Homo sapiens: one gene and its partner. The protein of the gene in region 1 purifies or fractionates together with the protein of each later gene. This does not show direct contact. Each region holds a gene or a part of one and is shown on either strand. Other genes may lie near its edges.

Region 1 (5,174 bases):
CACATCACAGTCAGTAGAGTGATACAAAGGACTATTGTTCAATGAAGACATCTGAACTAGTAATATTAATTTAGTATATGTTGGCAACTGTGTGATATTTTAAGCTATAAAAGTGGATAAAATGCCCTAGGGAAAGAGTGTAGATTCCAAAGGACAAGACCTAGAACAGAAAACCAAGAGACACCAGCATTTAAGAGTGCAGGAAAAAGTAGTCAAACTCATAGAAGCAGAAAATAGAATGGTGGTTGCCAGGTGACGGAGGTTAGGGGAAACAGGGATTTGCTGTTTAATGGATATAAAAGTTTGGTTATGGAAACTGAAAGTTCTAGAGATCTGCTATATGACATTGTGCTTATAATTAACAATACGATACACTTAGAAATGTGTTAGGAGGGTAGATCTCATGTTATGTCATTTTTACCAAACCAAAAAAAGACAACAGAAAAAGAAGAAAAAGACAAGACGCTAGGTAGGGAGTCAGACCCTGAGTGGTCAGAAAGATTAAAAAAAAAGGCGGGGGGGAGTGAATGTCAAGAATAAGGGCAAAAGCTACAAGGTGGAACCATATAAAGAATGAGTCATTTGGATTTAGCACAGGAGAGCCAGTGATCTTAGAAGGTTTATTAGTGGTTAGCAGAAGACAGAGTTCAAGTGGCTAAGCCAGGTGTGGTCTGAAGAAACATTAAGAAGTGAGGAAAAGCTGATTTGTGGAATGGTGAAGGATTACTTGGGTATATGGGAAGGAAGGAAGGTAAAGGATCCTACCCTCCTACCAAAGATATTTCTCCCCCCTTTTTGAGACAGGATTTCGCTCTGTCACCAAGGCTGGGATGCAGTGGCATGACCAGGGCTCACTGCAGCCTGGACCTCCCAAGCTCAAGCAATCCTCCCACCTTAGCCTCTCTCCAGTGACTTGGACCACAGGCGCGCACCCCATGCCCAGCTACAATCATTCTTACTTAATAATTTCTTACACTTAGTATTTACGCATTTCTCACACTTGAGACTCACAACCACAACAGCCACGTGAGGTTGGCAGGGCTTTGCACAGATGTGCACAGAGCAAAAACCAGCAGAATGAGAGTGTAGGCAGGGCCAGCATACTTCCTACCCCACTCCCCGCCTATCAAACTCCGAAGCTAAGGAAGAACAAGGAATGGAAATTCAATTTCAGTGTATTCAGTGATACCCCACCTCCTCCTAAACAGAATCTGAGATAACACACAGAAAGCTCTCTCTGCAGGTATATGCAGAGCAATGCCACGCATTGCCAGCGTCTGTGCATGCCTTTTCCTTTAAAGAATGGCCGGTGGTTTTAAAAGAAATTGCAATTTTATTAGGAGTCTAATGAAAATTTATTTCTTACTCATCAACATATGTTCTGACCGTTATTTATTCCATTCTTGGTTTCCTCATCTGTAAAATGTTAACTGCTGTGTACTTGGCCCTTTCTATGTTATTAATATGCCCTGAGAATTCAGTTAAGGGTTTGAAGTCCATTGAGCTCCTCGAGAAAGACATTCTAATAACAGTAACAATTACCAATTCATGATTGTAAAATGTGGAACTCTACTGCGAAGTGAGAGCGGAAGAGAAGGGGAAATTATACGAATATTTCAGCCCCCAGTTCACTTCTCCCAGAAGGAATTAGCCTTCCGGGTTCCTCCCTTTGTCCTTCAAGATTGATTGGCGCCCAACGCCTTCTGCTTAAGACAAGGAGCACTTTTCCACACCTGTCGATTTTTTTCCTCTTCCAGGGAGCCAGGAAAAGTCCAATCGGACTTTTTATATCCCCAATTCCCCAGACGCTGCTCCCGGCATTGGCTTTTTGCGTCTTCAGGCTCCCCAACGAGATCCCATCGGTCAAGCCTGGGAAAGGGGCTGTCCCGCCCCAAATAAGGCCAACCACTTAGGCTCCCAGCTCTGGGAAGGGGTAGGGTCATTGCTGTAGTGCTCTTTAAAGAAAGAAAGAACCTGGGGCAAGGGGCGGTGGCGCGGGGGGCGGGTGGTGAGCAGAAAAATCGAGTCGCCTCTGGGGACAAGAAATCAGAAAGACCCTTCCTTCCTCCGAAGATTTAGGGAACTGAAGCCTCGCACGTTAAGAAACCACTGAAACTGTACAAATGCTCACCTAGGGCTCGCCGGTCGACAGTCCTCAGGAGCAAAGGGTCAAGATCCCCTCCCCCACCCGCCACTTCCCCCCGCCCTTCTCTCAGAGTAAACAATTCCCAGAAAGGCGAGCAGTTCCCTTTTTCACCCAAGGACACTCGCTCTCCGTCCCGGCCGCCCAGCGGTTCCCCTTTCCGTGGCCTGGGCAGGCGCTGAGGCACAGGGAGCCGCACGTTCCCGAGGCACAGGGAGCCGCACGTTCCCGAGGCACAGGGAGCCGCACGTTCCCGGGGAAGGTGCCAGAGGCCAGCTGGACGGCCCCGGCGCACTCCCGCCCCGGCGCACTCCCGCCCCGGCGCACTCCGACCCCGGCGCACTCCCGCCCCGGCGCACCCTGCTCCCCGGCGCGTACCCAGGGGCCACGATTTTGGCTGGGCGAAAGCGGCCCGCTCCCGCCTCTCCTTGAGTGCGCTGATTACATCTACCGGAGACACCTTCCCTTCCCTTGGGGATCCCAACTCTCAGGTCGCGATCCTCTTCCTATCTGCCCTCCCCCACCCCCGCCAACTCCATTTTCTAGCCACCCAGAGGCCCCTTCACCCCAGCTTTTCCCGCCACCCCCACCTATCCCCGTTCCCCTAGTTTTCCTCTGCACCCTAGGCGATCGCCCCCTTCCCCGGAGCGGTGGCCGCGGCTACACTCACCGCGAGGGTCAGCAGGAGCAGCCGGCAGAGGGCTCCGTTCCAGGAGCCGGAGGGGCGGGCTGCCTCCATGGAGAGGGCTCGGGGCAGGTCGCGGGCCGAGCGTCGGGCCGGGGTAGGAGGGCTCCGCGGGGCGAGGGCCGCGGCCGGAGCGCAGTCTGGGCCCGCTGCTCAGGAGGAGCGCGAGGCGGAGGAGGTGGGGCGCGCGGAGAGGTGCTTTTCTTAGCTTCTCTGAAGCGCCTGCCTCTCATCCAAGGGGCTTTTCCTTTGGCGGAGGGAGGGGCTCCAGACGCGTCCAAAAGACACCGATCGGCCCCTCCTTGTTGTCTATTTAAGACTTAAGACTTCATTTCTCTAAGAAAGCCACGGGTGGGAACTCCCTCTCGCCGCCACCCTTTTACCTGCGCAAGGTGTTTCTCACCAGCGGACGCCACCTATAAGGCCCATCTCCCCCACCACGCCCCGGTGTCCGCTCCGCCAGGCGAGATTAACAGCCGGCCCTGCCCAGCAGAAGCCCTGACTGCACAAAGACTCACTCCTGAGTGCGCGGTCGGCCCCGGCTCCGCCCTGCCCGCTGCCCTCGGCGACGGCCGTGGTCCCTGCCCTGGGGTCAATTACAGAGCGAGGTCTGAGCCGCAGAGGCTGGGTTTTAGGTCACAGCTGCCTGAGGCCCACCTGACAGAAAGTTGACTCCAGGGAGACTGTTACACACTCTACTGGAGTGAATTTCCTACACACACCCACAAGCAGTTCAGACATCATAGTCATCTGAGGCACCATTCTTTGGGGTCTTGTGTTTTTAGGAATTTACTGGCATGACAATGATACAAGACAATCGCCATAATTTAGAGACAAAAATACATATATACATACATACGTACGTAAAGTTAGGGAATCAAGGCGACTGCAAAATAATAAAATCGAGGGTGAGTTACTATAAGAAATGCATCCATTGAGGTCCTAGTCGTGGGCTACATGTGGTTACTGATTTTCTCCAAGAACATCCCTGGTCACAAATAGAGTTATAACTTATTTCCTATACCGGACTCCTGAACATCCAGTGGAGAGTTCTCACCTTCTTTACTACCATCAAAACCAGAGTTCATGGTGAGAAATGAATAAGAATGGGATAATTTACATTTTTATTTGAAGTGCACTTAAACTAAATGAATTATTGCAGCACACAATCTGGAAGATTAAGATATAAATGCTGTTTCTTTTAGCTCTTCAGAAAGCAATGACAAGGCATCTGACTCATCCTCCTGCACCTCTTTTCAATTACTGACTTAAACCAGGTAAGCCTGACCACAAAAGAGAAACTTGTCTGCTCCCTTTTATTTGGTTTAAGTTTCCTCAGGGATGTCCTGAGAATCCTATGTGAAAAGCCAACCCTGACACTCACACCATTTCGATTCTTGAAAATGTTCACCATCTTAACACCATTGTATGCCGAGCCAGAATTACTGCAATACTGAGTGTATATTTAAATTAAAAATTAATGTCAAACAGCGCATGCCTTACATTCTCTGTGTCTGTGCTATGCTCATGCCCTATTTTATTAACGAATGCCACTAATGAGCTGTTCTGTCTCCATATCCATAAAATTATCATTGACCCTTTGCTAGTAAAATAAGCCTGAGTCATCAGCATGAGACTATAATTGACATCCTTCCGTTTCCATATTTTTTAACACTCATAGTTTTCCATCAATGATACCATAAGCACACCTCATCCTATTAAAGATGACATCATGGTCTCTAGCATGAAGCTTTTCAGAGGACAAAAAGAAAGCTATAAGCGTTTCAGGTTCTGGAGATCTACTCAGACTATCATCACAGGCTTTGACTATAGGACATTTCCAAACTCTTGCCTACTCTTTACCCTCTGATGCCTTAAGGGCAGCTCATGTTTTTCCTCATTCCAGGAAAGGGCGGAAGAGCAATTTGACTAGAATTCATCTTAGATATTTATTTTCCTCTTTCACATTAATTGATAGAGGCTATTAAAATGGTGATTTGTTTGTTTTATTCCAAAAAAAACTTTCAACAAAAGAATGGAATATAAAGTACTTTCTCTGAGCAAGTACCCAATTTATTTAATGTATTTAGGTTAGGCTATATGGTCACTGAAATAGATCCCTCTAAAACATAGGTTTGAAACAAAGGGCATATATTTAAAAAAAAAATGGAATGTGAGTAGATGTGATCTTTTTTTAAAAGAATGACTTTTGCTTATGAATATGATTCTGCTGCATGAACTAGTTTCCCAATAAAAATATACTTTTTATAGTAAAAAGTACACCAGACCGAAAGTAAGAAGCAACTTCTTTTGTGTTGCTTAAGTAATCTCTCAGGTCTCAACACT
Region 2 (3,990 bases), about 18 Mb from region 1:
AATTTTTAAGTGTGCACACCACCAAATTATTCATCAAGTGTAAGAATCAAGATAAAATCTTCAGAAGACTGTATCTTCCTGAGCCACGCAACTATTCTTAAAGCCAATGAGGAAATAAACTAATGTTTTAGTATGAACTTCTTAAATAATTTTAGGCAACAGAAAATGCTCAAGTCTCTATCAACAACTTTGATTAGGCCTCCTCCATAACTGGTAGCGCAGGTCATGAGCAGAACTGAGAAAGAGAATTATAAACCTATTGCGAATTGTGGAGAACAACTCCACTCACTATTTTCTCCATAAAGGCAGTTTATTACACTGAGATCAACATGTTATCACTCACACTAGTGATGTAAAAAATAATCCAATTCAACATAAGATTCAGACCAAAAAAAAAGAAAAAACCCATCCACGAGAATCTATCAATCTTTGACAACAAAACTACACGATTTTGGGATTAAATTTAAGTGACAAGACAATGTAAACTGGGGGCTTGTTCTCTCCGGAAATCACCACTACCAACGCTGCTTCTAAAAGCAGGCTGCACACAACCATTTTTCCTCTGGAAATAGCTAAATCCCAAGGCACGATATTGCTGTATTTTTTTTTGAGACGGCGTCTCGCTCTGTCACCCAGGCTGGAGTGCAGTGGCGCGATCTCAGCTCACTACAGCCTCCACCTCCCAGGTTCAAGCAATTCTCCCACCTCAGCCTCCCGAGTAGCTGGTATTCCAGCGGCACAACACCACGCCCGGCTAATTTTTGTATTTTTAATAGAGACGGGGTTTCACCATGTTGGCCAGGCTGGTCTCGAACTCCTGACCTCAGGTGATCCACCTGCCTCGGCATCCCAAAGTGCTGGGATTACAGGCTTGAGCCACCGCACCTGGCAGACATTGCTGTATTTTATAAATGTATCTTTTGTACCATTTAATACACTATAAATTATAATTGCAAGTATTTCCCACTAAGATTAAGTCCAAGTTTAAAAGCAATAAGCCCATCAAAGAAACAAAAATACTATTTGAAATAGTTTCAAAAGAACAATTAAAAAGATGGCTTTAAATAAAAAATCGTTTACCTGACGCTAAAAAATAAAAGATAAAAGCATGTAAATAAAAATGTGTTTACCTGACACTAAAAAATAAAAGATAAAAACGTTCTGGTGGAACTGAAAGAATAACTATAACCTTGAATATTGTTTTAATCAAGTTAGACAAGGGTTTTCATTAAATGTCATTTTACTAATTCGAAATTACATCTTTCACCTTAAGCATTTTGACATTTCCATCAACTTTCTAAAAGTGAGGGTAGATTGTTTTTCTATGTTTTTAATAGACTTGCCTCTCAAAAGAATGAATTAGATAAAAACTGATGGGAGAAACCTTTTCTCAACCTCCTCCTCCTCTTCAATGAGCATCTGAGTAAACCCTGGCTATAAATTACTGTTTAGGTCATAATCCTGAAAATTTTACATTAGACAATGACGTAACTAAGGCCCATTTTCTCTTTGTATCCCGACATCCTGTCAACTTTTCACTTTACAAGCCTGTTTTTCATCACAACAAATTTTCACATACAGGAATGCAATCAGTATTTTCTAACGTCCAGGAGCCAAAAATCACTATTTAGTCTATTTTTCCATTTCTCCCCAAAGAGCAGAATTCTCACGGTTCAGAATCATCTTTACATTTCCGAACCGAGGAAAGGCTGTCTAATGTGGAATACTGCTAGTTTCCCGTGAGGAGTGCGGTGTTTCCGACAGCGGCACTGAGGATCCGTGCGGAGCCCCCGCGTGAAGCCTGCGATGCCCTCCCCACCCCGTGAACCCGGCCGTGTGTCAGCAGCCACGGCGTGAGGCGCACAGGCCGCTGGCCCGGAGCAGGGCCCAGCCCACCGCTCCCAAACGCGCCGCGGGCAGCTGTCCCGCGGGCAGCACAATGACGAGCGCCCCGCGGCCCGCAGGCCCAGGCCCACCCAAACGTCCTCCGCACAGCGGATTTGCGCCGTCGCCCGCCACGAGGCTCTGACCTCCGAGGGGCCCCGGCCAGCCACGGCCTGACGCCGTCCTCCCCTGCGGGTCCCCGCCGGATCCTCCCGGGGGTCTCCCGTGGCAAAATGGGGGGGGACGGCGGGGGCGGAAGGGCCGGGGACGCTGAGGGTAAGGCGGCCCAGCCGCGGGTGTTCCAAGAACTACGAGGGAAAGGGGCCCGGCGGCCTCACCCGCAACTGGGGGCGGCTCTCCCGCGTCGTCGGCCGCGGGCGCCAGGGTGACGGCGCCGTCCCTCCAGACGCGGATCTGCGCGGCCGAGCGCACACGGTGGCGGGGCTGGCGGCGGCGGGCGGCGGCGCGCAGGGAACCGCAGCACTGGTAGCACACGGCCCACGCCTGCTCCTCGTTGATGGGCTGGTTGTACAGCCGCAGGATCTCCTCCAGGCTCAGCGCGTCCCGGGAGCCCCCGGCCGCGCCGCCGGCTGCCCCGGGCTCCCGCGGCCCCTCGCCGCCCACTGCCTCAGTCCGCGGCTCCCCGCCGCCCGCCGGGCCAGCCGCCTGAGCCATCCCGCGGGTGGGCGCTGCGCTCGGCAGTCGCGCCGTGTGCCGGCGTCTCCTCAGCTCCGGAGCATCGTCGTCGCGCGCCGCCGCCTCACCATCCCCGGAACCGCCGCCGCCCAACGCGGCCGCGCGCGCCGCCGCCGGGACCAGGCGAGTGCCCGGGAGGCGTGGGCAAGAGGAGGGCGGCGAGGACACGGCTGCAGTCCCGGTCAGACAGCCGCCGGCCGGTAGCGACGCGATGGCGTCCGGCGCCCCGCCCCGCCCCGCCCCGCCTCGCGCCGTCCAGCGCCGCCCAGCGCCCGCCCCTTAGGGGGCCGCACGGGCCGGGGGATGCACGCTCTGGAGGTGAGGACCAGGCAGGAGGGCCTCGCCTCGAGGCGAGATGGCCGCACGGTCTCTAGCCCGCAGGGCTCTCAGAGTCGCAGGCGGTGACGCCCGGTCGGGGGGCCCGGTCGCAAGGGACACACAGCTGGGGGCGCAATGGTGAGGGCGGCGACGCACGGTCCGGAGGGGATGCGCGGCCGGGTAGGGCGTGCAGGGTTGTGGGGCGTGGGGGACACGCGGGGCCGGGCGCGCGGTCGGGGGGCGCAGGGGCAAGAGGGTGTCGCATTTATCAGGGAAGTCCCCGGCCGACTCTGGCGGGGAACTGGGCGCGCCAACCCGGGTCACCGCCCTGCACAGCGGGAGAAGTCACCCGCATTGACGTTCCCTAGGCGCTGGATCGCCGAAGGTCTGGTTGAAAACTTGAACCCGCCTGGAGCGGATGCCTAAGAAAATGCAGGCCCGCTGAAGCCTCCCCGCCGGGCCCTGGGCCCTGAAAGCCTCCGGCAGTTTCCCGTGACCCCGCGGCCGCTCTGCGCGTTTTCCGATTTCTTGCTGGTTGAATACCTCCCTCTCCACTCCCATCTTCAGGGTAAGCACCGTAAAGACGGGGATCTTTACGGGTTTTCCTCACTGACTTCTCCCAAAAGCTAAACCAGCGCCTGGAATATAAACATGTACATAATTTGCAGGTGTTAGTTTTAGCGTCCTTCCGGATTCATTTGTAACATTGGTCCCTTCCCTCACTAAGGTAATGTCTCAAGTACCACACTCATCAGAGCATGTGGAATGAATATCACAGTGGTAAAATTGAACTGAGGGCAATTAGCCGTAGAAAGAAAGAATTCCGCCCCCCCAACCTATTAAATATGCAATAAAACAGATAATTCTTAATCACCCATTGGTAGATTAATTTAATCGATAAAATTCCACTGAGGCTAGTCCTGTGTGAAAGCCCTACAGAGTGTTGAAAGCATCAACCAAATAGGCAATGTATATTAAGTTCCAGTAAACCTTTTACGGCAGTTTTATGTAAAATGTTAGAAATCACGCTCTCAACAATTGCATCTTGCGGTAGAAACTACAACAGTCTATTTAAATAACAACAGTCTATTA

What was found. Proteins that work in one complex are often made in the same cells at the same time.
Region 2: the proteins of DSC2 (region 1) and SPIRE1 fractionate together in Homo sapiens (co-fractionation; one large-scale study listed by BioGRID). This does not show direct contact.

Annotation. Positions count from the first base shown.
Region 1 is NC_000018.10:31,099,090-31,104,263, forward strand, and holds the start of DSC2 (desmocollin-2 isoform Dsc2a preproprotein), read right to left. Parts: upstream 3,333-5,174; 5' UTR 2,883-3,332; coding exon 2,814-2,882; intron 2,635-2,813; exon of another isoform or gene 2,499-2,634; intron 2,172-2,498; exon of another isoform or gene 2,132-2,171; intron 1-2,131. UniProt on the Homo sapiens protein: A component of desmosome cell-cell junctions which are required for positive regulation of cellular adhesion.
Region 2 is NC_000018.10:12,655,308-12,659,297, forward strand, and holds the start of SPIRE1 (protein spire homolog 1), read right to left. Parts: upstream 2,801-3,990; 5' UTR 2,560-2,800; coding exon 2,223-2,559; intron 1,426-2,222; exon of another isoform or gene 1,344-1,425; intron 1-1,343.